4 linked regions of the Homo sapiens genome follow. The protein of the gene in region 2 purifies or fractionates together with the protein of the main gene of each other region. This does not show direct contact. Each region holds a gene or a part of one and is shown on either strand. Other genes may lie near its edges. The genes, in order: KIF22, KPNA3, NCBP3 and NCBP1.

Region 1 (7,447 bases), on a different chromosome or scaffold from region 2:
CCTCCCACCTTAGCCTCCCAAAGTGCTGGGATTACAGGAATGAGCCACTACATCTGACCTCCTTTGCTTCTTTTAAAGACATAGTTTGGAATTTTTTTTTTTTTTTTTTTTTTTGAGACAGAGTCTCACTCTGTCGCCCAGGCTGGAGTGCAGTGGCGCCATCTCGGCTCACTGCAAGCTCCGCCTCCTGGGTTCACGCCATCCTTCTGCCTCAGCCTCCCGAGTAGCTGGGACTACAGGCGCCCGCCCCACACCTGGCTAATTTTTTGTATTTTTAGTAGAGACGGGGTTTCACCGTGTTAGCCAGGATGGTCTCAATCTCCTGACCTTGTGATCCGCCCATCTCGGCCTCCTAAAGTGCTGGGATTACAGGCGTGAGCCATCGTGAGCAGCCTTTTTTTGAGGAGTCTCCAACTGTCACCCAGGCTGGAGTGCAGTGGTGCCATCTCGGCTCACTGCAAGCTCTGCCTCCCGAGTTAACGCCATTCTCCTGCCTCAGCCTTCCGAGTAGCTGGAACTACAGGCACCCGCCACCACGCCCAGCTAGTTTTTTGTATTTTTAGTAGAGACGGGGTTTCACCGTGTTAGTCAGGATGGCCTCGATCTCCTGACCTCATGATCTGCCTGCCTCAGCCTCCCAAAGTGCTGAGATTACAGGCGTGAGCCACTGCACCCGGCCTGGAAGTTATTTTTTAAAAATCAATTGTTTCTTTCTCTGTCATCCCAGCAGGAGTGCACAGGCATGACCTCAGCTCACTGCAACCTCCACTTCCTGGGTTCAAGCGATCCTCCTGCCTCAGTCTCCCAAGTAGCTGGGACTATAGGCACATGCCACCACATCTGGCTAATTTTTTTTCTTTCAGATGGAGTCTTGCTCTGTCCCTCAGGCTGGAGTGCAGTGGTGCAATCTCAGCTCACTGCAACCTCCAACTCCTGTGTTCAAGTGATTCTCCTGCCTCAGCCTCCTGAATAGCTGGGATTACAGGTGTGTGCCACCACGCCGGGGTAATTTTTGTGTCTTTAGTAGAGACAGGGTTTCCCCATGTTGGCCAGGCTAGTGTCAAACTCCTGACTTCAGGTGATCTGCCCGCCTCAGCCTCCCAAAGTGTTGAGATTACAGGCATGAGCCACCACGCCTGGCCAAACCACCCTAATTTCTACCAGCCAGATGCAGATCCTTAAAACAACCCTAGGAGGTATTTCAACCATTATTCCCTTTTAATATCTGAGGAAATGGAGGCACAAAGAGGCTAAATCTCTGGTCTGGGCAGCCTGGCACCAAGGCCCTGTACCTAAATGGTTTATTCAAACATAGAAGCCCTATCTCCTTGATCTATGCTCTTTTCACTATTTCTGGCAGGTTTCTTACCAAATATCTGGAGTTGACAACAAATGTGAAAACTGAACAGCCTTTTCTGACAGGCAAGGAAGACCAAACTGCCAATTGCCAATGTCAGATGTTCTCAAAGTATGGTCCAGAGACTTCTGGGAGTCCCTGAGACACTTTCAGTGGGTCTACAAGTTCAAAACTATTTTCATAATAAAACTAAGATACCAATTGACTTCTCTTGCATTGTTTCTCAAGTATATAGTGGAGTATTCAAAATACTATATTATATGTGACATCACAACAGCATGAATGCAGAAGCAGATATGAGAATCTAGTTTTTTTGTGTGTCTTTGAGACAAGGTCTCCCTCTGTCACTGAAGCCAGAGTGCAGTGGCACCATCACGGCTCACTGCAGCCTCAAACTCCTGGGCTTAAGCAATCCTCCCACCTCAGCCTCCCAAGTAGCTGGGAATATAGGTGTGTGCCACCATGCCTGGCTAATTTTATTTTTTAAGAGATGGAGGTAGGCCAGGCACAGTGGCTCACGCCTGTAATCCCAGCACTTTGGGAGGCCGAGGCGGGTGGATCACGAGGTCAGGATATCAAGACCATCCTGGCTAACACGGTGAAACCCCGTCTCTACTAAAAATACAAAAAATTAGCCGGGCGTGGTGGCAGGTGCCTGTAGTCCCAGCTACTCGGGAGGCTGAGGCAGAAGAGTGGCGTGAACCCGGGAGGTGGAGCTTGCAGTGAGCCGAGATGGCGCCACTGCACTCCGGCCTGGGCCACAGAGCGAGACTCCGTCTCAAAAAAAAAAAGAGATGGAGGTCTAGGCAGGGCTTGGTAGCTCACGTCTGTAATCCCAGCACTTTGGGAGGCCGAGGCGGATGGATCACCTGAGGTCATGAGTTCAAGACCAGCCTGACCAACATGGAGAAACCCCGTCTCTACTAAAAACACAAAATCAGCCATGCACGGTGGTGCATGCCTGTAATCCCAGCTACTCGGGAGGCTGAGGCAGGAGAATTGCTTGAACCCAGGAGGCGGAGGTTACGGTGAGCTGAGATTGCGCCACTGCACTCCAGCCTGAGCAACAGAGAGAGACTATGTCTCAAAAAAAAAAAGTGCACACCTCTCTGGTTTTTAGTATGTTTATTACGTTACGCAGCCATCATCACTACTTCATTCCAAAATATTTAATATTTCCATCACCCCCAAAAGAAACTCGTTATATCTATTGCTGTAGTGCCAGCTCCTCAGCCCCTCACCATCCCCTGGCAACCACTACTTAGATGTCCTTTTTATGTCTATGGGTTTTTTACTGTAATTTTTAAATTCATTAATGTCAACTTTAATTTAGTTTCACTTCACACACAGTATATACGGCCAGGCCTGGTGGTTCACACCTGTAATCCCAGCACTTTGGGAGGCCAAGGCGGGTGGATCACTTGAGGTCAGGAGTTTGAGACCAGCCTGGCCAACATGGTGAAACCCTGTCTCCATAAAAATACAAAAATTAGCTGAGCGTGGTGGTGCACACCTGTAATCCCAGCTACTCGGGAGGCTGAGGCAGGAGAATCACTTGAACCCAAGAGGCAGAGGTTGGAGTGAACCGAGATTGAGCCACTGCACTCTAGCCTGGGAGATGGAAGTGAAACCCCGTCTCAAAAACAAAAAAACAAAAACCCTCATATACACAAAACATCTTTGGAGGCCTCATTTTTAAAAACTGTAGTGGGATCCCAAGGCAAAACGTTTCAGAAACACTGATCTAAGATTTGTGTTTTTTGTTTTGAGACGGAGTCTCACTCTGGCGCCGTGGCTGGAGTGCGGTGGCACCATCTCGGCTCATTGCAACCTACACCTCCCGGGTTCAAGCGATTCTCCTGCCTCAGCCTCCCGAGTAGCTAGGACTACAGGCGTGCCACCATCCCCGGCTAATTTTTGTGTTTTTAGTAGAGACGGGGTTTCGCCATGTTGGCCAGGCTGGTCTCGAGCTCCTCACCTCAGGTGAGCCTCCCGCCTCAGCCTCCCAAAGTGCTGGGATTACAGGACTGAGCCACCGCGCCCGGCCCGTGTTTTGTTTTGTTGTTCAACAGGGTGGAACATAATGTCTAAACCTGGGCCCTACCTACCTGGTGCTCAAAAGTGGAATGACCGTCCCTAGCCAACCCTTCAGAAAGGACAGAGAGCTACTCAACGGACTGCTGTACTCTTAAGGACTGGGAACCGGAACCGTGGGTGAGTGGGACTGAATCACAGACTAAGCGTTTTCCACGCTTCGCCGACGTGCTGAGTGCCAAGTTATAAAGACAGGAACATCCAAGCTGCTCTCCTGGGCTGACACGGACGCGAGGGGACCTACAGTGGCCTTGGGCCCAGCAGGCAGCGACTGCAACGTGACTGCCCAGAGTCCAGCCCCTGGGGCCCAGATCTACAGAACCGACCAGACGTGATAGCCCTTTGGCTGGGGCTGCAGTCCCACGATCCACACAACGACCCTGGCTCCGCAGACGCGCCAACCACCCACGGAGGCAAGAAACTGCAGAAAGTAAAGGGAAAGGGAGCCCAGTGCCGGGCGGCGCTGAGCAGCTCCCCCAGCGGCCACCGTCGCCAACATCCCTGCGTAGGGGTTTGTATCGCAGCGCGCTTCCAGACATCAACGGCTGCGCGGCCCACGCGCGCGCATGCGTCCTGACCAGGGGAACCTTTTCTTGGGGACCCGGAGGCGAGCGCTGGAAGGCGGGATAGTGGCGACCCACACGCAGCAGCTTCCGGCGGCGCGTAGTCTTGATTGGTGGAACCTGGGAGAGGGGGCGGGGCACCGGGGAATTCGAATGGGAGAGGCGGGCCCAAGGAGGGAGTGGAATGGCCGCGGGCGGCTCGACGCAGCAGAGGCGACGCGAGATGGCGGCAGCTTCAGCGGCGGCGATCTCAGGTACTTGAGCCCGGCCTGGGCAAGGCGGGTACCGACGTCTGGAGTTTAGTGGGAGTTATGTGTCGGAGTGTGGTCCAGGCTCTGCGGGTTGTCGCGGAGAGGCGGCCATGGCGCAGGGGCGGGGAGAGGGGGACGGTGAGAGTGTGGGGTCGCGAGCCGGTCGCCCCGCCTGGCTCCTGCCTTCTCCCTGTTTCCTGCTCTCCCCTTGGGTCAGTAGACTCGGGTCTCCGGTCCAGGCTCTTGGCTTGAACCCCGCGCACTTTTTCTTTGTGAGCTTCGGTTTCTTCGTCTGTGAAACGGGGGTCATGGCCTCATCCCTGGAGATCACCTGAATAAGCAAGAGAAGAGTGGCGGACGCTCTAGCCACGAGGACGAGAAGAAGGGAGCCGGAGGCGTGTATTGGGAAGGGTTCTGTGTGGGACATGGTGTTTGGGTGCAGAGACATCCCTGAGAGATGCAAGAGGACGGGCTGAGGAACAGACCCGGCTGCTGCTGGGTTTGAGTTGGCAGCGTAAGATGCTCTGCGATTACAGGAAAACGAAATAAAAGACTAAAATTTCCTTTCACTCTAGCATGGAAGTGAATGCTATTTTAGGGTTGGAAAGGCTGTTAGGACACCCAAAATCTTGTATGTGAGTATTTGTTTACATGTGCCTCTCTAACCCGGAGACTTAATCCTCGTTAGTGATGATGGTGAGCGCCATAGTAATTCACTGGAGCCCTCGTTAGCCTCGTGGGGAAACAGACATTTAGGAGAATGCCTAACACATGTAGAGCTCTTGCTATGTGCCAGGCACAGTTGTAGGCATTTTATGGTGGTGAACCATTTATTGTCCACACAATGCTATCAGGTTGTTACTATTACTGTCTTTGTTTTACACAGGAAACTGAGGTTAGTTTGTTCAGAGTTAACACAACTAGTAAATATTGGGGCTTGAATTCGCTCTCAAGGAGTCTGAGTGTAGAACCTCTGCTCTTAACCATTATGCCCAAGTACATGTTATCCCTGCTGGCTGAGCACAGTCTCCCCTTACCCTTCGAAGATGCACTGTGTCCGGTGCATGGTAGATATGAAAATGCCTGAATGAATAATGTCCCTTCCTCGAGGAATTTACAGTCTGTTTCAATAGAGTGTCACATACGTAGATGTAATACGAAACACAATGAGAGATGTGTATAAACTGAGGGTGTGGAATCTGAAGTAAGCCCTTGAGTATTCTGGGAGGACTTCATTAAGGGAGTGAATGATACTTGAGATGGGTTTCAAAGGTTGGATAGGAGTTTGCCAGGCCTTGACTAAGAAGACAAGAACAGCAAGTGTTTTCTTATTTATGATGTAAGATGCTCTCTTAGCTCAATTTCCTCATCAATAAAAGGGAGAAGAGTGAATGAAATTTAGGAATTGTGAAAGAAGGGAAAATTAATAATTGCTAGCCTGGTCCAAGCTCAAGGTTGCTTTTATCATGAAAGGGCTAGACTCTTGTGCAGTAAATAATTGTTTACATGTGGCCCTCCCCTCTTCCCTCCTACCCTGGACTGTGAGCCCTGGGGCAGGAATGGCCGTGAGCCATTTTCATGATGGAAATGAACAAGCCAGTGATTAGTAGTTTATTCACTAAATCTTAATTTTTTTCAGCAAATACTTCTTGAGGGCCTACTCTGCGCCAGGTGTTGGGGTTAGAAAGGTGAGCAGGATAAAACTTGTTCTCACAGTTGGCAGTCAGGTGGAGAAAGTGACAAACACGCAATAGTGGGGTGTGACAAATGCTTATGGAGGGGCTAACATGAGCTGTGGTTGCACCTGATAAAGCCTTAGTGTCTACCAGGAAAGGGTTTTTGGTTTTGTTTTTTAAGAGGAGTTAAAATGTGTTTACCTTAGTCACTCCAGGGTGGGGTGGGGAGCAATGCAGATATTCTAGGGAGAGAGATTAACGTGGACAAAAATCCAAAGGTGCAAGAGAACTTGGAGTTTTGTAGGAAGTGAAGGAAATTCATCATGACTGGTAACTTACACTGCAAGGAAGGAAACAGAGGGAATGACTAGAGGGCAGGGAGACACCTTGCTACCACCAGCAAGGAAGGCTGTAAAGACCATGACCTTGGGCAGAGGTAGTGCAGTGGGAGTGGAGAGAAGTGGACTTGTTCAAGAGAGATTTAAAGAGATAGACTTGACAGATGTTAATGATGAACTGATGTGGGAGGTAAGAGACGTTGGAGTTAAAGACTCCCACTTTTGGGGTTGGTGCCATTCATTTACATCAGAGATCAAAGGAGGAGGCTGCAGAGAGATGGGGAAGGAGGGTTCAGTTTAGGACAGGTGGAGTTTAAGAGGAGCCGTCGGCTGGGCTCACGCCTGTAATCCCAGCATTTTGGGAGACCAAGGTGGGTGGATCACGAGGTCAAGAGATCGAGACCATCTTGGCCAACATGGTGAAACCCTGTCTCTAAAATTAATCAAAAATTAGCTGGGCGTGGTGGCGTGCACCTGTAGTCCCAGCTATTCGGGAGGCTGAGGCAGGAGAATCGCTTGAACCGGGAGGCGGAGATTGCAGTGAGCCAAGAGCGCCACTGCACTCCAGCCTGGCGACAGTGAGATTCTGTCTCAAAAAAAAGGAGCCGTCAGGGCAGCCGTTCAGAACGTGGGCTGCAGTTGAGAGCTCTTGTGCAGAACGTGCAATAGGACTTATCAGCTGTAAGATGTTACTGAAGCCAAGAGGGCGGGTGACCTGCCTATGAAATGAATCTGAGTGGTCTCAGCTCGGGGCAACTTTGTCCCTCACAGGACATTTGGAGATGTCTGGAGAGATTTTTAGTTGTTACAACTTGAGGGTGAGGGTGGAGAATGCTACTGGCATCTAGTAAGCATATGCTAACAGTCTAAATGCACAGGACAGCCCCACAACGGAATTAGCCAGCCCGAAATGTCAGTAGTGCTGAAGTTGAGAAATGCTGGTCTAGAGAAAGGATAGACGGATCCTAGGATGAGGAGTGAACAGAAAACTAGGTAAGACAACCAGGAAGGTGGGGGGCATGGAAATGAAGGGAAAAGTGTGTTTCCCAAGAGTGTCGCATACTTCTGGGAGGTCCAACAGGATTGAGGCTGAGTATGCCTACTGGATCTAGCACTAGGGAAGTCATGGGTGACCCTGCTGAATAGTGAGGGCAGAAGCAAGTTGCAG
Region 2 (7,413 bases):
GGGACTACAGGTGTGTACCACCACATCTGGCTGATTTTTTTATTTTTTGTAAAAATGGGGTCTCACCGTGTTGCCCAGGCTGGTTTCGAACTTTTTGGCTCAAGCGATCTGCCTGCCTCAGCCTCCCAAAGTGCTGGGACTACAGGTGTAAGCCCCAACATGTCTTTTAATAGGTCTCTCCTATATCAGCCTTTAACCTTTTTTAGCCATTCTGCATACCATTGATTTGAACATTATTTTCTTTCCTCCCTTTTTCAATGCCCCATCCTTAGCATATCTGTAGAATACACTCCTCACTCCCATCCTGAAACACACACACACATGCACAAACACCCTGTTACTTGCTTCTTAGTTAGTTTCAGCTCTCTTGATCTAATCCTTGTCGTTCCTACACATCATGATCCTTCCATGCATGATACCTGTTTTATTTCCCACTGTCACTGCCTTTCTTTTTAAATCCATCTTTGAAAAGCTAGTTCAGTTGTCACTTTCTTTGTGAGGTCTTCCATTACTATTCGAAAATATAATGATCTTGTTTTTTCAACAAAATTATACAGCCTTGTAATATCCCTAGTATGTAAAGCAGATGGTGTAATGGAGACAGATGGGGTTCTAGCTTTAAGACCAGCCTAGAGCGTGTGATAGTGGTTAAAGTGAGATGATGAGGGCCTCAACTAGCACTTGATATTAGGGGTGATTATATAAATGTAAGAAATGTTTAAGAGGTAAAATCGACATGATATATTGATTAGATGTGTCTGTGGAGAGGAAGTCGAAGTCAAGGGAAATAATGACTGGCTAAATGTTGTAATACCAGTGGACATAAAGAAGCAGGTTCATAGTGACTGGCTTTGGGAGCCAAAGAGATTTTTTAAGTAGAGATGGCTGCTGGGTGCAGTGGCTCATGCCTATAATCCCAGCACTTTGGGAAGCCGAGGTGGGCAGATCACCTGAAGTCAGGGGTTCAGGACCAGCCTGGCCAACATAGTGAAACCCTATCTCTACTAAAAGTACAAAAATGAGCCAGGTGTGGTGATGTGCACCTGTAATCCCAGCTACTTGGGAGGTGGAGACGAGAATCACTTGAACCCCAGAGGCAGAGATTGCAATGAGTCAAGATGGCGCCACTGCACTCCCGCCTGGGTGATGGAGGGAGACTCCATCTCAAAAAAAAAAAAAAAGTAGGGTTGGCTAGCAGGCAATTGGATTATAACAAGGTGAAATTCAAGGACAAGGCAAAGAATAGCCATATCTTATCAGTCTTAAGATTCATTAATTTAAGTGGTAGTTATGTGTCTAAAAAGATGTGTTATTGTTTTTTTACAGTCCTTCATTACAGTTTGAAGCTGCTTGGGCATTAACTAACATAGCATCAGGAACTTCTGCACAGACTCAAGCTGTTGTGCAGTCTAGTAAGTAAATTCCTTACTGTCTGAACTTTTTGTGTTTTAATGATGGCAAGGAAGTAGAGTTTTGTAATAAAGAAATTTTATCTTGTAACATTTTTTAAATGATGACTTTTATAAGTTACTTTTGATGACCGATATCTTTTTCATAGCCGTCATTAATTTATCATGAAAAATTTTTAATTGTGGTTATTAAAAGAAGAGTAGAGTTTTATCTTTTGGAGTAGACATCATGCTGTGATAACAGGATTTTAAATTCCGTTTCTGATATCTTCAAGATGCTGAATGGCTTCTGCCTTTTAGCTTATGACATATTTTAAATTTTACTTTCCTCAAGATGGGCTAATAATTATTGTTAAATGACACTGACACAAGCTCTTTAGAAAAGTACTAGATATCACCACGTACGTTATTATAGTATGGGACACTTAGCTAATTTTAGGTGTGGTAATCAAGGTGATTTTAAGTAGCATGTGATATGGCAGTAAGTTACATTGAATCATGTATTGAGAATACTATTCTCACCAGACCCACAGGTGGCTCATGCCTCTAATCCCAGCACTTTGGGAGGCTAAGGCAAGCAGATCACTTGAGTTCAGGAGTTCAAGAACAGCCTAGGTGACATGACAAAATCGTGTCTCTACAAAATATTTAAAAATTAGCATTGCATGGTGGCGCATGCCTATAGTCGCACCTACTCAGGAGACAGAGGCGAGAGGATCGCTTGAGCCAGGGAGGCAGAGGTTGCAGTGAGCCGAGACTGCACACTGCATTCCAGCCCCGGCGACAGAGTGAGACCCTATCTCAAAAACAAAGGCTGGGTGCAGTGGCTCAAGCCTGTAATCCCAGCACTTTGGGAGGCCGAGGCGGGTGGATCACGAGGTCAGGAGATCAAGACCATCCTTGCTAACATGGTGAAACCCTGTCTCTACTAAAAATACAAAAACAAAATTAGCCGGGCATGGTGGCGGGCGCCTGTAGTCCCAGCTGCTTGGGAGGCTGAGGCGGGAGAATGGCGTGAACCCGGGAGGCGGAGCTTGCAGTGAGCCGAGATCGTGCCGCTGCACTCCAGCCTGGGTGACAAAGCGAGACTCCACCTCAAAAAAAAAAAAAAAGTTATCATGTGACCCAGCAGTTCTACTCCTAGGTGAAACCAAGAGATATGAAAACATATTCATACAAACACTTGTACATAAATATTCACAGCAATGTTATTCATAACTAACCCAAATGTTCATTAACCGAGGAGTGGATAAAGTGAATGTGGTGTATACAATGGAATACAATTCAGCAGTAAAAAAGAATGAAGTACCAATACCTGTTACCACATGGATGAACCTGAAGAATGTTAAGTGAAGTCAGACCCCCCAAAAAACACAGTATGATTTCATTTGTATGAAATGTCCAGAATAGGCAAATCTGTAAAGACAGAAAGCAGATATTTAATGGTTGCCTGCCGCTTGGGGAATGTGTGGCAGAGGAACAAATGTGGAATGACTGCCTTAAGTATGAGATTTCTTTTTTCTTTTTTCTTTTCTTTTTTTTTTTTTTTTAAGACGGAGTCTCGCTCTGTCGCCAGGCTGGAGTGCAGTGGCGTGATCTCAGCTCACTGCAACTTCCGTCTCCTGGGTTCAAGCAATTCTCCTGCCTCACCCTCCCAAGTAGCTGGGACTACAGGCACACACCACCATGTCCAGCTAATTTTTGTATTTTTAGTAGAGACGGGGTTTCACTATGTTGGCCAGGATGGTCTCAACCTCTTGACCTCGTGATCTGCCCGCCTCGCTTCCCAAAGTGCTGAGATTATAGGTGTGAGCCACTGTGCCCGGCTGAGTATGATATTTTTTTTTTTTGAGACAGAGTCTTGCTCTGTCACCCAGGCTGGAGTGCAGTGGCACGATCTTGGCTCACTGCAACCTCCGTCTCCCTGGTTCAAGCAGTTCTCTGCCTCAGCCTCCAAAGTAGCTGGGATTACAGGCGCCCACCACCACGCCCGGCTAATTTTTATATTTTTAGTAGAGACAGGGTTTCACCATCTTGGCCAGGCTGGTCTTGAACTCCTGACCTGGTGATCCATCTGCCTCGGCCTCCCAGAGTGTTAGGATTACAGGCATGAGCCATCATACCCAGCCAAGATTTCTTTTGAGGTCCTGGAAATGTTATAAAATTAGATTGTGGCGATGTCCTCACAACTCTGTATAAATATGAAATGTCATTGAATTACACACTTAAATGTAAATTTATTGTAATTATATCTCCGTAAAGTTGTTAAAACTGAATTAATTTAAATTTTAAGTAAATAATACAAGTAATACACAGATACAGCAAAAAAAAAAAAATGAGGTAGTGCACAGTTGATTGAAATTTTTAAAAAGTGATCTAGCTTATGCTGGAAATGGGTATAATGTATACATTCTGTAAAGAGTAAGGATTATGAGAAATTATTTTAAAGTATAAGATAGACCTGATATGAGATTAATCAGTTCTTTGGTTAATCCCCGTATCAGGAATTGAGATTTTGTAGACTAAAGCATTACATTTTAAGGTTACATGTTTGGGGTAGGAACTCTTTTTTTTTTTTTTTTTTTTTTAATGGATTATAGGAAGGATTTCATGCTGTTGCTTTCTTTTAGTTAATGGTATGATAGCAACCTTTAGATACTGCCAGTTGGTTACGGTACTTGACTATTACTAGGGGAAAATACTGAAATTGATTCTTTTTAGGGTAAAGATATTTGCCACATTTGTTCTTCCAGCTACAATATGCCAGGCTGTGTATTTGATCAATTTCTTTGATCTGAAATCTGTAAACTCTTCAACATGTTGCTAGTATAAATATTAGTTTTTCTTTATTACAGATGCAGTACCTCTTTTTCTGAGACTTCTTCGTTCACCACATCAGAATGTTTGTGAACAAGCAGTATGGGCTTTGGGAAACATTATAGGTAAGTGGTTTGAAAGGAATCCTCTTAAGAATCTAAATTAACTTTTTTCCTACATTGGCATAGCCATTACATACTATGTTTCCTCTGAATTTAATGTGTGTTGACTCTCTTCTTGCCTCATAAGTACTGACTTAAGATGATGCTCTTTGAAAAGGATATACAGTTTGCTGTTAGCATTGGTAGGTTAAATTTACGTTCCCCAGATCAAAATCTGGAGAAACAACACTTGATGCCTTTGACTAATGGTGAGGAAACATAGAACGTCAGTGTTCCCACATGAGCCATTGCATACATTTCAGACTTTCTCATCCTGAATGTAAGTTTTTTTTAAATATAATTTTCATTTCTGTAGGTGATGGTCCTCAATGTAGAGATTATGTCATATCACTGGGAGTTGTCAAACCTCTTCTGTCCTTCATCAGTCCCTCCATCCCCATCACCTTCCTTCGGAACGTCACATGGGTCATTGTCAATCTCTGCAGGAATAAGGATCCCCCGCCGCCTATGGAGACAGTTCAGGAGGTAAATGAAGAATTGTAAAGGCCAGATGGTATATTTTCCCTATGTTTGTACTTCAGGAATTCATATACAGGGGACAAAATAATACATATACTGATTTCATTGCAGGTGTGAGTTTTTTGTTTGTTTGTTTGTTTGATAACGGAGTCTTGCTCTGTCGCCCAGGCTGGAGTGCAGTGGCGCGATCTTGGCTCACGGCAAGCTCCACTTCCTGGGTTCACGCCATTCTCCTGCCTCAGCCTCCTGAGTAGCTGGGACTACAGGCACCCGCCACCACGCCTGGCTAATTTTTTTGTATTTTTAGTACAGACGGGGTTTCACCATGTTAGCCAGGATGGTCTCGACCTCCTGACCTCGTGATCTGCCCGCCTCGGCCTCCCAAAGTGCTGGGATGACAGGCCTGAGCCACCACGCCCAGCCACAGGTGTAAGATTTTAAAAGTAACGTACCATATTTAATTACTCCTATGAAATAAAAGTTGAGTGTCTTACTGTACCTGAAAGAATGTCAGTTCATCCTAATGCCTATTTTTTTGATTATCTGCATAAAAAGAAAATATAAAAATTCAGAGAGAAAAATACAAAAGGAAAACAATCTCAAAGTTTTATTACTGTATTGCATTGTTGGTTTAAAGCTATAAAAGGGGGTTGCTACAGGCAAAACTAGTATACTTACATGCAAATGTTCTTGAATGAGTTTGCTTTAAGTCCAATTGATTTTTTTTCTTCTTCTTCTTCTTTTGAGACAGTCTTGTTCTATTGCCCAGGCTGGAGTGCAGTGGCATGATCTCAGCTCACTGCAGCCTCTGCCTCCTGGGTTCAAGCGAGTCTCGTGCCTCAGCCTCCTGAGTAGCTGGGATTACAGGCCAGCGCCACCACACCCGGCTAGTTTTTGTATTTTTAGTAGAGATGGGGTTTCACTGTGTAGGCCAGGCTGGTCTCAAACTCCTGACCTGAAGTGATCTGCTCACCTCAGTATCCCAAAGTGCTGGGATTACAGGTGTGAGCCACTGCCCCCACGGCCTAACTCCAATTTATTACTGACAAAATTGGAGTTCTTAAAAGTGTGACATATTTTTTGTTAAATCTACTAATTAAAACAAAGTAAAAACTTTTTTATTTACATTTGATATGTAAATAGATCCTTGTGCTTTGCATTTTAAAAAAAAATCCTACATAACCTTTATTCACTGTTGACTGTGTTATCTCTTTTTTTTTTTTTTTTTTTTGAGACAGTCTCGCTCTGTTTCCCAGGCTGGAGTGCAGTGGCACAATCTTTGCCCACTGCAGCCTCCACATCCGGGGTTCAAGCGATTCTCATGTCTCAGGCATGTGCCACCATGCCAGGCTAATTTTTGTATTTTTAGTAGAAATGGGTTTTCACCATGTTGGCCAGCTGGTCTTGAACTCCTGGCATCAAGCAGTCCACCCACCTCACCCTCCCAAAGTGGTGGGATTACAAGCATGAGCCACCACACTTGGCCAACTGTGTATCTTTATAATGGACATCTTTCTCTAGTACCTGCTACTTTTTGTTGCTATGCAAAGGTATTTTGTGTGATTTCCTACAACCCCCTGCTCCCTTTCTCCCATATTTTAAAAAGAGATCTCTGGGGCCTGAATTTAACAAGCAAAGCTTTGTACTTTGTACTGGTTCGAATTTTCTTGACTAAAGGTGAAGTTGAAAACTTTAATTTGACTTAAGTAGCTTATTAAGTAAAATCGTATTTTTACGTTAAGCAGGTAAGTGAGACAATTACGGCAGTTTTAAGTGTAGCTTTTCTTAAATAGCTGTAACTGTATATTTGCATCTCCATTTTTTCCACTTGACATTTTATGCCATAAAGAAGGTTATTAAAAACAAATGTTTTTATTTTAAGGTACATTAACTTCTGCCAGATTTATTTGGATATTTTAACTTGTTAATTGAACATATTTCAGTTTAACATTTGAGATATGTTTTTGGTTTTTTTAGATTGAATTTATCAGGTTTTCATTTTCCTAAAAGATATTCAGACAAATTTAACATTGTCTTTCTCGCCCTACAAACCATATTTACCGCTTTTTATGTCAAAGTTGTTCATTTTTACAGACATATTAATTAACTAATGTTAAGTATTGTTTATTTTCTTTCCTCAGATTTTGCCAGCTTTATGTGTCCTCATATACCATACAGATATAAACGTAAGTTAAGAAGCAGCTTAAATGTGGGATTTTGCTCTTGATGGGACAGAAAGGGTTTTTATGTAAGTGTCAGCATACATTTTATCAACTTGTCAAGTTTCTACAACGTATTTACAGTTTTCAGAAATAGGATTAAGCTTAAATTAGGTTTATAGCTTAAATCTGTAAGCAGTAACAGCCAGACAGCAAAAATGCTCACTTTTGAGAAATTACTGCATATGTAGTTTATTTCTGTCATTATTAAGTAGTGTTTTTAAACCTTAATATTTGTAAAGCGGTAAAACCTCATGAAACACCTTACTTTTTAAAAAAAATCTCACTGGTTCTTACAACAGATAGGCTAGATATTATTCCCCCCAT
Region 3 (7,413 bases), on a different chromosome or scaffold from region 2:
ACACATGTGATCCTAACACTTTGGGAGACTGAGGCAGGAGGACTGCTTTAGCCCAGGAGTTGGTGACCAGCCTGGGCAACATAGGGAGACCCTGTCTCTACAAAATAAAAAAAAAATTAGCTGGGCATGGTGGCATATGCCTGAGGGCCCAGCTGAGGGGGAGGATGGCGTGAGCCTGGGGAGTCGAGGCTGCGGTGAGCTGTGATCATTCTACTGCACTCCGGCCTGGGCAACAGAGCAAGACACTGTCACCAACAAAAAAAAAAAAAAAAGGAAAAAAGAACCTGCAGATGTCAGGCCGACTTTTATTATAGGTTTTTCCTCAATTGCTGTCTGAATTTCTCACCCTTCCCCTTTGTGTTAGGACACGAGCAGAAGATATGAAAACAAGGCTGGCAGCTTCATCACTGGAATTGATGTCACCTCCAAGGTAAGACAGGCTATGATTTATTTATTCAGCTTGATAAGCAAGTGAACTTAATGAATTTGATCCCTAGGACATAACAGTAAATATTTCCTCTTTTATTTTGTTGCTGGATTTAAATTTTTTTTCTAAAAAAAATTGTGTTATTGGCCAGGCACGCTGGCTCATGCCTGTAATCCTAGCATTTTGAGAGGCCAAGCAAGTGGATCGTTTAAGCCCAGGAGTTCGAGACCAGCCTGGGCAACATAGTGAGACCCGTCTCTACGAAAGATACAAAAATTAGTCGGGTGTGGTAGCACAGGTCTGTAGTCCCAACTACTCAAGAGGCTGAGGTGGGAGGATCGCTGGAGCCTGAGAGGTTGAGGCTGCACTGAGCTGAAATCGTGCCACTGCACTCCAGTGGGGGCAACAAAAAAAAATTTTGTGTTATACAACGATGTCTTCATGCATCCTGAAACGGTACAGGCAGCATTTGTGTGTTCTTACAGCCATGAAAGGATAAAATCACTCTACTTAGATACCTGTGTTGAACCGTTTCCAAGAAAATGTCCAAGACGGGGGATGCTTTTTTAAATGGTATGTCCATTTCTAAAAAAATGTGTACTGTTTCCACTTGAAATGAAACAAAACATGAAAAGTGCCTGGCAGATGGTAGGCCCCCCATATTTAGGTGGAGTCTCGCTCCGTTGCCCAGGCTGGAGTGCAGTGGTGCGATCTCGGCTCACTGCAGCCTCCACCTCCTGGGTTCCAGCGATTCTTCTGCCTCAGCCTCCTGAGTAGGTAGGACTACAGGCGCCCGCCACCACGCCTGGCTAATTTTTGTAATTTTAGTAGAGACAGGGTTTCATTGTATTGGTCAGGCTGGTCTTGAATTCCTGACTTCAGGTGATCCACCTGCCTCAGCCTCCCGAAGTGCTGGGATTCCAGGTGTAAGCCACCGTGTCGGCATAATAGGCCCTTAATAAGACTATTGCCTTGTATCTGATGATTGCTATTACCAGATTACCACCTTCATTGTAACACCTCATAGAGTCAAGCCTATTATTTTCCTTATATGTAGTCAATACATGTAAGTTGCTTTAATCAGTGATGTTCCGTTTTAGACATTTTTTCTGATTTTAATGTTTACAGTTAAGTTTGGAACAGAATTTTGTATTACATTTCTGAATAATAGTATATATTGCTGTATTGAATACATAAAAGCAAAAATAAAAATATATTTCGTGCCTTCCTTTTTATAGTGTTTTTTTTTTTTTTTTGAGACAGAGTCTCACTCTGTCACCCAGGCTGGAGTTCAGGGGTGCGATCACGGCTCACTGCAACCTCTGCCTCCTGGATTCAATTGATCCCTCTGCCTCAGCCTCCCGAGTAGCTGGGACTACAGGTGGATGCTATCATGCCCAGCTAACCTTTTTATGGTTTATCTGTGTCTCTTGTGTTTCCAATCACTTAAAGGCCCCCCATCCCCGCAAAAAAAAAAAAAAAAAAAGAGAGAGAATTGGTCATCTTTTAGACAAGAAAAGAGAATAAAGTGAAAATCTTTTCTTACTGTAATTGAAAAAGTAAACTATTCATAATCTTACACTGTTTGCCATTATATGACACAGGTATATGGGAAAAGGGTGATAGTCTCAGAGTTAGTACTTTGTTTCTAAAGGAAGGTAAATTGTTGTTTGTACTAGGAAGACTTCAGTGAAGAAAATGAGCGTTAACTATTGGGAAAGAACAGAAGTGTTGCAACTTTACCAATCCCCACAAGCTCTCTGTAGTCAGACCTTCAATTAGTGTGGCAAAGTCAATATACAATTAGTGAAGGGGACTGGGCGCGGTGGCTCACATCTGTAATCCTGGCACTTTGGGAGGCCGAGGCAGGCAGATCACGAGGTCAAGAGATCGAGACCATCCTGGCCAACATGGTGAAACCCCGTCTCTACTAAAAATACAAAAATTAGCTGGGCGTGGTGGTGTGCACCTGCAGTCCCAGCTACTCAGGAGGCTAAGGCAGGAGAATCTCTTGAACCCGGGAGGCGGAGGTTGCTGTGAGCTGAGATCGTGGCAGCCTGGCGACAGAGTGAGAGTCCGTCTCAAAAACAAAAACAAACAAAACCAATTAGTGAAGGGTTCCTAAGAGCCATCAGAAACCCACAGTTGGACCTGGGTTTATTTTAGCTCTTAGAAGAAACTTACAAAGCTGATTATTTTTTCAGTAAAGTGTCAATGGTTCTTATCACTTAGAGATGAAAACTGGTGATTCCGTGGACACGAGGCTGGAAGAGGAGGGAGAGTTTCTTTGCTTCGGTGTTATTTTTAAACAGACTAGCTTTAGGGAGTGGACTGCTCAGGCAGTTATAATGTGGAAGAGCGTGATAGGTGTGATTACCATTGCTCAGACAATGTGAAGTGGTTGTAGGTGGGCTCCTAGAAATAGCACTGGAATCAGATCTGCTTGCTTAATAGCTGAAGTATCTCCAGCAAACCTTTTTGCTTTTTTGTGCCTCCATTTCTGCACCTGGAAAATTGGGATGTTGAAATTGTTTAGTTGTAATTTGTTGGCATAATTGATAATAACAAATGAAGTGTCATATAACTTTATAAACTTTAAAGGACTATTCATTCAGTCAGCAGATACTCACTGAGTTCCTACTATGTCCCAGGCACAGTGATAGGCTGTGTTATGTCGGAGATGGTTGCAAATTACAGCGATATTAACATATCCCCCCAGTCATTGAGTGTGAATATCCAGGTCTCTGCCAGACTGATTCAAGGTGTAGTGTTGCTTATTTCTTCTTTTTTAGTTCAGGTTTGTCACTGATGCATCATGATGCATGTGTGATTTAACTCGCCTTCTCCATATTTTACTACTTTCACTTTTTCTGTACTTTCTAGGAAGCAATTGAAAAGAAAGAGCAGCGAGCCAAGCGCTTCCATTTTCGATCGGAAGTAAATCTTGCCCAAAGAAATGTAGCCTTGGACCGAGACATGATGAAGAAAGGTACAGGGTGTTTTGTGGGAAATTTGTCCACATTTCCCCAGAGAGTGCCTTTTCCCTGCCATCACCTCATGCTTCTGGCCTTGCCTTGCGTGTCCACTCCTTATCCAAGCACTCTTGTGAGAAGGGACCTGTGAAGTCTCCATTTCTGAGGTCACCTGTTTAAAGTTCAGATGCTGTCAGCTGGCTCAGATGTTAGAGCTGGGAAATAAGAGATTGTCTTTTCTGAGGAGGCCCAGAAAAAGTTACCAGTTAGTGGCAGAGCTGAGATTCGAACCTGTGCTTCTAAGGACCCTTACTCATTTTCTCCTTTTATCGTAGAGGTGTTAACTTTTCTTTGCCTTTAAACGTAGTGAAAGTGTATCACAGTGAGACCTTCTTTTCGGGGAGTTAGAGCAATTTTGAGATTGGTGGGGAAAAGCCATTAACACTTTTGTTGATAATCTGAATCTATTGGCCAGGTGTGGTGGCTCATGCCTGTAATCCCAGCACTTTGGGAGGCCAAGGCAGGTGGATCACTTGAGGTCAGGAGTTTGAGACCAACCTGGCCAACATGGTGAAACCCCATCTCTACTAAAACTACAAAAATCAGCTGGGAGTGATGGCTGGCGCCTGTAATCTCAGCTACTCGGGAGGCTGAGGCGTGAGAATCGCTTGAACCTGGGAGGCAGAGGTTGCCGTGATCCGAGATTGCACCACTGCACTCCAGCCTGGGCGACAGAGCGAGACTCTGTCTTAAAAAAAAAAATTCTGAATCTATTGATAATCTGAATATCTGATATATGTAAACCACTCAGTAACATCCTGTTGTCAGAGAAAGCTAAACTAATCCTGCCCTGAGTTTTAAGCCTGCGCTTACAGTTGGACTTGTGATTTGATTTGATCTTTGTGTTTTTTTGGGGTATTTTGCTCCCTAGAACTCACCCCGAATTATTGTATATAGTAATCTGCCGCAGTTTTCTAAAGCAATTTATAAATAAAAGGAAAAATTACTACTTTTTTAGTGAGTCTATGTTCTTATTTATTATTCTACTATAATATAAATCCATGAATGCAGAAGGCTTCCCTCTGTGTTATTTGCAAATTTGGGTGTTCATAAAGGGTTTAGTAGGCAGCCTTCTGAATGCATGTTAAAGGCCTGTGCTGTATTGTATGAGCTTCTCTAGCCTTGTTTGGTTGATAAAAGCAAAAGCTCTGTAAATATATTGAATGAATGAAAGAATAGCTGCTATTTGTTGTGAACTTGCTTTTTTACTAGACTCGTTAAGCACATTATATATTTCTTTCTTTTTTGTTGCTCACAACAACTGTATGAGGAATTTATTTTTATCCCTATTTTATAAAGAGGAAGCAGGCTCAAAGAAGTTTAATAAATTGCCCAGGGTCATGTAGCTAGTAAAGGTGGAGTCAGGATTCACACCCAGTTTCTTTGACTCTAGAGCCTTGCCCTTAACTCCTTTGCTCTGTTGCTGTGTAATGTAGGATGTGGTGCTATCGACTGATATTGCGTCCCTCCTCAGTCAGTCCTAATGGGCCCAGCAGTGTGGATGCAGAGCTGAACTCTGGAAGCTGCTTCACTCTTTATCCTGCATGACCAGTTCAAGTCAGAAACACGCCCTTGCTTCCCTCATGGGCGGGGTTTCTGTTTGAGGAGAAGTCCTGTGAAGGCCAGGTGTGGCTTGACCTTCATGTGCCTGCACAGCCGGGCGCAAGCATACCTGTGAGTCTCTCTCACAACTCTACCGCGAGGGCGTCATAGCTTTATCACACCTGTCGACCTCTGGTCCCGAGAGCATTCCTTGAGGCGGCTTGCCTCTGATACGGCTCATGCCTTTCATTCTGTGCATTTGCCCTTCCTTGTCCCATGCTTTATCTCTGGTCAGGTGTCACTTCCCCCGTGGAGCATCTCTGCTCACCCACTTGAAGTGTTTTCTCACATCTGTTGGAGCTCTTTAGGGCGCAAAAGCCTCGTAGAATCTAGTCTCAGTTCCTTTGTGACTGAGGACAAGTTCTTGAGCCTTGTTAGTTTCAGTCTCCTTGTCTGTAAAATGGAAATATGATACTTACCTTAATAGGATCACTTTTGGGGTTAACTTTTAATTTAAAAAAATTTTTTTTTTTAACGTACAACTCCAGTCTCACGGTTCTAAAGATATTCCTAAAAAAGGCAGTAAGGTCGGCCGTGGGATGTCAGCTGGGGAAGCTTGCTTATTTCAGTCGATTCTTTGTCCAGGAGGCAGCATGGCCTAGGATAGTGTTCCTGAGCCCTGGGGAACCCTGCTGCCCATCTCAGACCACTTTATATTAGTTGGAGTTGGATAGGTCCCAGGGATAGTTACTGGTTTTCTTTTCTTTTTTTTTTTTTTTTTGAGACAGAGGCTTGCTCTGTCACCCAGGCTGGAGTGCAGTGGCGCAATCTCGGCTCACTGCAACCTCCACTTCCTGGGTTCAAGCGATTCTCCTGCCCCAGCCTCCCGAGTAGCTGGGACTACAGGTGCATGCCACCACACCCAGCTAATTTTTTGTATTTTTTAGTAGAGACAGGGTTTCAAGCTCCTGACCTCCTGACCTCGTGATCCACCCACCTTGGCCACTGCCCAGCATTTTTTTTTTCCTCTCTTTCTGTAGCCCAGGCTGGAGTGCAGTGGCGCGATCTCGGCTCACTGCAACCTCTGCCGCCCGGGTTCAAGCGATTCTCCTGCTTCAGCCTCCTGAGTAGCTAGGATTACAGGCACCTGCCACCGTGCCCAGCTAATTTTTGTAGTTTTAGTAGAGATGGGGTTTCACCATCTTGGCCAGGCTGGTCTTGAACTCCTGACCTTGTGATCCACCCGCCTCGGCCTCCCAAAGTGCTGGGATTACAGGTGTGAGCCACTGCGCCCGGCTGATAGTTATTCTTTTTATATCTTCTCAGGTAATTTTTATTTATTTATTTTTATTTTTTATTTTTTTTTTGAGAAGGAGTCTTGCTCTGTCACCCAGGCTGGAGTGCAGTGGCACGATCTCAGCTGACTGCAACCTCTGCCTCCCAGATTCAAGTGATTCCCCTGCCTCAGCCTCCCGAGTAGCTGGGACTACAGACGCACACCACCATGCCCAACTAATTTTTTGTATTTAATAGAGACGAGTTTTCACCATGTTGACCAGGGTGGTCTCGATCTCCTGACCTTGTGATCCACCCGCCTCGGCCTCCCAAAGCGCTGGCGTTGTAGGTGTGAGCCATTGCGCCAGGCCATCTTTTCAGGTACTTTTAATGTGCAGACAGGATTGAGGACCATTGGTTTCATGGTTATGAGCATGAGCTCTGAAGCCTAGTTACCTGGATTCAAATCTTAATCTGTTACTTTCTAGCTCTATGGCCTCGGGCAAGTTATTTAGCCTCTAAAAATCTCAGTTTCCTTATCTGGAAAGGCAGATGACAGGAATTCTTTTTTTTTTTTTTTTTTTTGAGAGACGGAGTCTCACTCTGTTGCCTAGGCTGGAGTGCAGTGGCGCAATCTTGGCTCACTATAACCTCCGCCTCCTGGGTTCAAATGATTCTCCTGCCTCAGCTTCCTGAGTAGCTGGGATTACAGGCACCTGCCACCACGGCCAGCCAATTTTTATATTTTTAGTAGAGACGGGGTTTCACCATGTTAGCCAGGCTGGTCTTGAACTCCTGACCTTGTGATCCACCCGCCTCAGCCTCCCAAAGTGCTGGGATTACAGGCGTGAGCCACTGCGCCCGGCCAATGACAGGAATTCTTATAGGGCTGCTGGGAGACTCTAACAAAATGTTACAGTCCATAGAGTGGCGCTTGGCACATGGCAGGTGCCCAGTTAATGTGGCTTATTATCATCATCTGGTATTCTCCATCTTCCCAGCCGTCATTTAAGTGACCTAGCTTCTTGGGCAAGTGAGGAAATTGGAATAACCATGTTGACTCCTGCATCCACACTAGGCGTCAAGTTCAAGTTATTTGTTATTAATACCAACAACAATAATAAAAGATAACGTGTG
Region 4 (7,413 bases), on a different chromosome or scaffold from region 2:
ATAGCCTTCAGATACCTTACTAGGAAGTGCCTAAATTAATGCATCATTCATACCTCCTTTTTTCTGCCCTCTCCCCAGCTCATACAGTGGCCACTGTGTACTGAATAACCCATCTAGAAAGCTGAGCATTAATTTTTGTCTTCCCTTTGCCCTCTCGTACCATAGGTGTTCCCAATCCCTGTCAATTCTGTCTCCCTAATTTCTCTCAAGTCTGTCCTTTCTTAGTCTCCAGGGCCTCTAGCATAGTTTATGCCTTCCTCCAGATGTTCTTAATAGCCTCTTAACTGATCTTTTTGCATCTAGATTCTCTGCTTTTCACTTTGTGTTCTACAGTGGCACCAGACTGGTCTTTCTATAACTAGGCTCTGCACATGTTGGTTACTGGTTAAAAAAACCTTAGTTCCTTCCCATTGTCTACAGTGAGTGGTCTTAAAAGCCTGGTGCACAAGATGATTCCTTGGGTTTCAGGAAGTGAATATTAAGAACTCTTATTTATCTTAAGTGGAAATGAAATTAAACCTTACTAATAATACATAGATTAATGGTGATCCAGTGTATATCATAAATACATATGTATGTGTTGAAGATATGTGATCAAATTCTTTTTTACTGAGTACACAATCAAAAAAGTTTGGACACCCATCAGGCTATAGGATTAAAGTCCAGACTCTTTAGCCTGACCCTTTATGGTTTCCCCAGTCTGTTTCTCTATTCTTGTCTCCCATATGCTCCCCAGCAATATCAAAATAACTTGCAGATCCCTAAACACACCTTGTTTTTGAACCTCTATGCCTAGACTGCCCTCCTTGCTCACTACTTGAGGCTGTTGCTATCCTTTATGACCTAGCCTAATTGTTACCTCCTTTGTGATGCTTTCCCCAACTCCCTTTGTCATTGTTCCTAAAAAATGCTTAATTTGCCTTTTAGTGTGGGAGTCATTCCTTTGTATTGAGATTGTGCTTGTTCCACTAGAATGGGTCCCCTAACAGTGACTTTTAGTAGTGTTTAGCAATAGCACACTAAGCACACCCAATAAATATGTGTTCTGTAATTTCCATTTCTGTAATTCAGTGAAAATTACAGCCAAACAGAAAAGGAGATTATAGGTTGAAGTAGCTAGAATATTTTACAATCTGGATTCTTGATGTAGTATAGCATAGAAACGTATGAACTCACAGATTACTGTCCTTTATATAGTCTTTGTTACAACTTCTCAATTCTGCCATTGTAGCACAAAAGCAACCATAGACAATATGTAACTGAATGAGCGTGGCTATTCCACTAAGTTTACTTATGGGCACTGAAACTTGAATTTCATGTAATTTGTATATGTCATAAAATACTCTTGATTTTTTTTTCACGCATTTAAAAATGTAAAAACCATTTTTAGTTCCCAGCTATGCAAAAAACAGGTAGTAGGCTAGATTCAGCCCTTAGGCTATAGTTTTTTAGACCAATAGTTTAGCCTATACAAGATTGCTTATTTTGTAGTTATTATAAAGAACATTTAGGTTTAATAGCAGAAATTGTTTGCCCCAACAGGTCCGTTTTTTATCTGATCTTGTGAATTGTCATGTGATTGCCGCCCCATCAATGGTTGCTATGTTTGAAAATTTTGTAAGCGTAACTCAGGAAGAAGATGTACCTCAGGTAAGAGAACCCCTCATGCTGAATCTTGAGGGGTTCTTGAGGGGTTACTGAATCCTGGTACTTCCATATAGTACCAGGAATTTTTCGCTGATAACCCATTAGCAATAAAGAAAAAAATAACAGCAGACTATCACACTTTAAGTTCTTACTATCTAAAAATTAAGCTGACTGGCACACTGGTGGGTTCTCATAATATCTGTATGTTGATTTAAATGATGCTGTCTAGTAAGATTAGAACTAATATATCTAGAAATGCTCTGTATAAACCAGATGTCTTATTTAAGTCCTATTAAATAGCTTCCATAGGATTTCATTCAAGAATAAATAAAATATGAATGAATATAATTAAAGCATATTTTAAACTTAACTTTTTAAAAATCCTTTAGGTGCGACGAGATTGGTATGTGTATGCATTTCTGTCATCTTTGCCCTGGGTTGGAAAGGAGTTGTACGAAAAGAAAGATGCAGAGATGGACCGCATCTTTGCCAACACTGAAAGCTATCTTAAGTAAGGGCACAGCTCATAGTACTCTTTGTTGCTTAGGTAAAGGATATCTTATATCAGTGATACCATTTGAGTTTCTCAAAAATAAGCTGTAGAGTTCCTGAAGGTATTTTCTAGGTAATCCTGTTCTCCTGCTGTTTTAACTCACTGAGACCTCAAAGTAGTCAGATATGGTTTGCTTACTTTTGCCAGTGCAAAGGACAGTTGGCAATATAGCTTCTTTTAAGCTGCTTTTATATGTTTGTTTATAAAAGACATAAAACACCCTAGTGCAATAGTTCCTCAAATATTAGTGTGGATAAGAATTACCTGTGGTACTTAAAATACTCAGACCCCAACCCCCAGACCTGATAAATTATACAATTTGAGAGAGAGGTTTGGACATCTGTATTATTAACACATTTCACAAGTGGAGAACCACTGTCCTAGCACATACAGTATATTTAGTTCATGTAAATTAATCTTAAATCAAGCTCTTAAAACAGTGGTCCTTAACCCTCCATCCAGCCAGTACTTCTTAAGTAATATGACACATTTCAATTAAAATAGTCACATGTCTTCCCATTACTCATCTCTCCTAAGCCAATGTAAAAGCTTGGTTTATATTGTTAGATACAATAATAATAAATAGGTCTTTTTAGTAAATTTATGCTTAACTATCCAGCAACATGGTAATGGTTATGTGGCCCTTAGGTTTTTACAGATTGATTTTGTTGTTAAGTTTCATTTTCTCTTTTTTAAGTGCTTTTTTTGGATAACTGTTAATAGCTACTTAGTTGGTTATTAAGTAAAGTTAAAAGAAGCTTAAAAAATAAGAATCTTTTGGCCGGGCGCAGTGGCTCACGCCTGTAATCCCAGCACTTTAGGAGGCCAAGGCAGGTGGATCACCCGAGGTCAGGAGTTTGAGACCAGCCTGGCCAACATGGTGAAAACCCATCTCTACTAAAAAATACAAAAATTAGCCGAGCGTGGTGGTGGGTGCCTGTAATCCCAGCTACTCGGGAGGCTGAGGCAGGAGAATTGCTTGAACCCAGGAGACGGAGGTTGCAGTGAGCCGACATGGTGCCGCCACTGCACTCCAGCCTGGGCAACAGAGTGAGACTCCGTCTCAAAAAAAAAAAAAAAAAAAAAAAGAATCGTGTGTGTGTGTATACATATCCTTTCTCTTTTTTATTCAAATGATAGCCCAATATACACACTGTTCTTCACTTGGCTTTTTTTTTTTTTCTTACTATAACTTGGATTTGTTGCATAAAAATACTTAACTCTACTTCATTCTTTTTAACAGTTGTAGGGTATTTCACTTTTTAATGTACCATGATTTCCGTAGTCTCCTGTTGGTGGACGTTTAGGTTATTTTCAATCTTTTGCTCTTATAAACAATGTTTCAGTGAATATCTTTGTGTATATGTTTTTATGTACATGTGCAAATATATTTATGGGGGATATAAATTTTTAGAAATGGCATTGCCGAGTTGAGGGTTCTAAACAATTTTGATAGATTTAGTCAAATTACCTTCCAAAGAGATTATACTTTCCCAAAGAGATTATATCAGTTAACCTCTTTGTCAACAATGTTTGAGACTGAATCTTGACCTGCATCTTGATGATACACAGTACATTATCAAAACAGTTGATATCTGCCACTCCAGTAGGTAAAATGTTATTTCATTGCTTTAATTTGCATTTTAATAACTGTGAGGGTGACTGAGCATCTCTTGTTTTTAAAAGCCTAAATGTAGATTTTCATTTTTATCTTTAGAAGACGCCAAAAGACTCATGTACCCATGTTACAGGTATGGACTGCTGATAAACCACATCCACAAGAAGAGGTAAATGGATTTCAGTCCCTTGTGATACAAACACAGTCAGCTCTTGAATAGATTCTTATCTCTGTAAGATACTCAGACCATTCCATTTTACCCTTTGACTGTGTTTCTACATTTCATGATAGTTCCTTCTCATAGCTCAAGGTGTATGGTAGGTCTTTAATAGATGATAGAATGTAATTGAAATATTCCCTTGTTCTTTGGAATGCCAGCTATTACAGAGTTGACATATATTTATTTAAATGCTTAATTTGAAAAATGTCAAAACAGACAGTTCCAAACAGGTAGACTTTGTAAGTAAAATAAAAACAAAAACTTAGCACCTTTTTTTGTACCATCTTACAAGTTAGCTTACTTTTGTATCCTGTATTTTAAAGGGTAGTGATTTTTTCATTTTGTCTAGTCAAAATGTTAATTATATTAATGATTAAAAATTAATCTGTCTTTAGTATTTAGATTGCCTGTGGGCCCAGATTCAGAAATTGAAAAAGGATCGCTGGCAGGAACGGCACATCCTAAGACCTTATCTTGCCTTTGACAGCATCCTGTGTGAAGCACTGCAGCACAATCTGCCTCCTTTTACACCACCTCCTCACACTGAAGATTCAGTGTACCCAATGCCAAGGGTCATCTTCAGAATGTTTGATTACACAGATGATCCCGAGGTAAGTGACCGACTAAAAGTCCTAGATATTGACCTGTGTTGCATTGTGCTTGTGGGTTAATCCCGCTTGAATTATGCCTGTGGTATGTTTTAATTTTGAGTTGTTTTTATCTAAGAAGGTCAGTAGCAATGAAGTTAACTTTTTAATTCAGTGAATGATATCACCTCATTATGCAAGAAATTATATTTGGCATGTGTAAATAGATTACAGAGACGTGCACAGTTTGCAGGCTAAGAGTGTGGGTTTTGGGTTTTTAGAGCTACGTTGGTTTGTGTTTTAATCTTGGTTTAGCCAAATACTAGCTGTGTTAATTTGGGAAGGTTATTTACCTCCCTGTGCTTTCATTTCCTGAAGGTAATAATAATAGTATACATCTCATAATAGTAGTATATATCTCATGTTATGAGGATTAAATTATTCACATGTAAAATGCATAGAACAAGAACAGTGTCTGTCACATGATGAATGCTCAGTCATTCTGGCAATTTTTCTTTCTTATTTTTTTCTTTTCGAAATGGGGTCTTACTTTGTTGCCCAGGCTGCAGGTGAGATCTAAGCTCACTGCAACCTCTGCCTCCTGTGCTCAAGCGATCCTTCCACTTCAGCCTCCTGAGTAGCTGGGACCACAGGCATGTGTCACCTAGCCTGGCAAATTTTTTGTAGAGTTGAGATTTCGCCATGTTGCCCTGGTTGGTCTCAAACTCCTGGGCTCAAGCAATTCGTCCGCTTCGTTTTCCCAAAGTGTTGGGCTTACAGGCATGAGCCACTGCACCTGTCCATAATTATACTTAATAAGGTTATTTCTCAGTAAAAGTACCTAGTTTTAGGTATGGTCCCTCTCTAGGCAACACAGCCTGTCTTGTGATTATTCATATTGTATGATTATTTGAAAACAAATGTTGGAAGTATTTTTAATTAAAAAATTCCAAAGATTAGTCTAAGCTGACTTTATCATTTTTAATATACATGTTCTTTATTTCAAAGTCAAGTTTCCTGGCAGCCATTGTACTGTTATAATTGTATATTGTACAATTAAGAAAATTTATAATTTTCATTGTGGGTACTATCCTGTGTATTGTAAGATGCTCAGCGGTGTCCCTGATCTCTACCCTCTAAATGTCAATAGCACTCTCCCTGCCTCAGTTTTGACAACCAAAAATATCTCCAGAGAGTGCAATATGTCCCCTCAAGAGCAAAATTGCCCCCAGTTGAAAACTATTGCCATAAAAATTAATATTACCACCTAAGTCAAATTTGAGTTTCTTCTATTGTCTCTTTTCTGTTCTATGGTAAAGTGCTAATGACCAGTAGGAATTTAGTATATATGTAATCTATTTTGGAATAAAAATTTCTCAGATAATCAGTTACATATACAAAATTATCAGCTTGCTGCCGTCTTTGCTATATTCCATATGTAACCAAATACTTTAGTCAAAATTATGTAATGATCTACTTAGATATGTCTAACTGAAAATCTGGTTTACATTTAAGACTGCTAATGTTTGTGGTCGGGTATTTTTTTTTTTTTGTGCAGGGGAAACTAGAATGGGACCTCAAAATTTGTTTCTCCTGAATTTGTATTTAATTGGTATCACCTCTGTAAGGTGCATATCCATCCCTTGCTAGAAGAGTATAAATATATAAAATACATATTACTCCCAAAACGAACAGGATTTTGTTTCTGTTCTGGCCTTTTACAAGTTGTTTATTAAAAAACATTAGAAATTGTAAAAAAAAGATTAGAATCATCCAAAAGTCATTATTAAAGGTTTATTTTGTGTGTTTTGAACCTGTTTGCTATGAATATACTTAAGAATAAAATAATGCCATGTAGGGAATATGTTTTGAGCTTAGACAGTATATTATGGGCATTTTTCAATTCATGCATGACTTTTTATGGCTATGTGGTGTTTGAATAGAATTTTCTCTCTGCATAGTTATTAATGGAAATAATTCACTCTCGGTTTAAAAAATAAACTCTGTAAGACTTGTATTATCCAAAATTATTTAGTTTCATATAATAATTGGTGTGTAAAGTAGGCAGTGGTTGTATGGTTAGGTATGAGATGTGGTAGAAAAAACACTACAGCTGATACTCTGGGGTATAAGTGAACATGACAATGGAATTTCCTGAAATATAGAGCTTTAACACTTCAGAACTTTTATCCCCATCACCCAGTTTAGTGCTTGGAACATAATAGTCTCTCAAATATTTGTTGAATAAGTAAAAGAAATCTGTTTTCTAGGCCTGTAGTGTACACATTTGGTTTTCTTTCCAGGGTCCTGTCATGCCAGGGAGTCATTCAGTGGAAAGATTTGTAATAGAAGAGAATCTTCACTGCATCATTAAGTCCCACTGGAAGGAAAGGAAGACTTGGTAAGATTCTTTTCATGGTACTTTTAGAAGGGAGAGAAGCAGCAATTTTGATAATTCAGTAAGAGCAAAATATATGTTGAGAGTGTAAGAAAATTTTATCCTCCTGACTCCCTGTCTTGCTAAAATCAATTTCTAAAAACACTTGCTTTACTTTCTCAAGGCTCTTCACCCTTGTATAGTACTTTTCGAGGTGCTTTATAGTAATAAGCGTATGATGCCAGTGTGTTTGGTGTGGATATTTAGTATATGCTATGGAGAGCTTGAATGGCAAGTTATTTTGGGTTTGGATACCAATAGTTTTGCTCTGTTTTCTAGCATTTAGACACCCAAGCTTTGGAATTTTTTTTTTTAAATAAAATTTTCTTAAACTTTGGGAAGTTTGGTTTA

Evidence for each region.
Region 1: the proteins of KPNA3 (region 2) and KIF22 purify together in Homo sapiens (affinity purification with mass spectrometry; 4 studies listed by BioGRID and IntAct, with this or other methods). This does not show direct contact.
Region 3: the proteins of KPNA3 (region 2) and NCBP3 purify together in Homo sapiens (co-immunoprecipitation; 2 studies listed by IntAct, with this or other methods). This does not show direct contact.
Region 4: the proteins of KPNA3 (region 2) and NCBP1 purify together in Homo sapiens (co-immunoprecipitation; 3 studies listed by BioGRID and IntAct, with this or other methods). This does not show direct contact.

The regions. Positions count from the first base shown.
Region 1 is NC_000016.10:29,786,562-29,794,008, forward strand, and holds the start of KIF22 (kinesin-like protein KIF22), read left to right. Parts: upstream 1-4,189; 5' UTR 4,190-4,198; coding exon 4,199-4,268; intron 4,269-4,406; exon of another isoform or gene 4,407-4,660; intron 4,661-5,904; exon of another isoform or gene 5,905-5,953; intron 5,954-7,447. UniProt on the Homo sapiens protein: Kinesin family member that is involved in spindle formation and the movements of chromosomes during mitosis and meiosis. Binds to microtubules and to DNA. Plays a role in congression of laterally attached chromosomes in NDC80-depleted cells.
Region 2 is NC_000013.11:49,719,415-49,726,827, reverse strand, and holds part of KPNA3 (importin subunit alpha-4), read left to right. Parts: intron 1-1,326; coding exon 1,327-1,412; intron 1,413-4,264; coding exon 4,265-4,351; intron 4,352-4,703; coding exon 4,704-4,873; intron 4,874-7,008; coding exon 7,009-7,053; intron 7,054-7,413. UniProt on the Homo sapiens protein: Functions in nuclear protein import as an adapter protein for nuclear receptor KPNB1. Binds specifically and directly to substrates containing either a simple or bipartite NLS motif.
Region 3 is NC_000017.11:3,836,103-3,843,515, reverse strand, and holds part of NCBP3 (nuclear cap-binding protein subunit 3), read left to right. Parts: intron 1-364; coding exon 365-430; intron 431-3,310; coding exon 3,311-3,416; intron 3,417-7,413. UniProt on the Homo sapiens protein: Associates with NCBP1/CBP80 to form an alternative cap-binding complex (CBC) which plays a key role in mRNA export. NCBP3 serves as adapter protein linking the capped RNAs (m7GpppG-capped RNA) to NCBP1/CBP80.
Region 4 is NC_000009.12:97,643,575-97,650,987, forward strand, and holds part of NCBP1 (nuclear cap-binding protein subunit 1), read left to right. Parts: intron 1-1,542; coding exon 1,543-1,650; intron 1,651-2,036; coding exon 2,037-2,158; intron 2,159-3,917; coding exon 3,918-3,987; intron 3,988-4,433; coding exon 4,434-4,649; intron 4,650-6,928; coding exon 6,929-7,026; intron 7,027-7,413. UniProt on the Homo sapiens protein: Component of the cap-binding complex (CBC), which binds cotranscriptionally to the 5'-cap of pre-mRNAs and is involved in various processes such as pre-mRNA splicing, translation regulation, nonsense-mediated mRNA decay, RNA-mediated gene silencing (RNAi) by microRNAs (miRNAs) and mRNA export.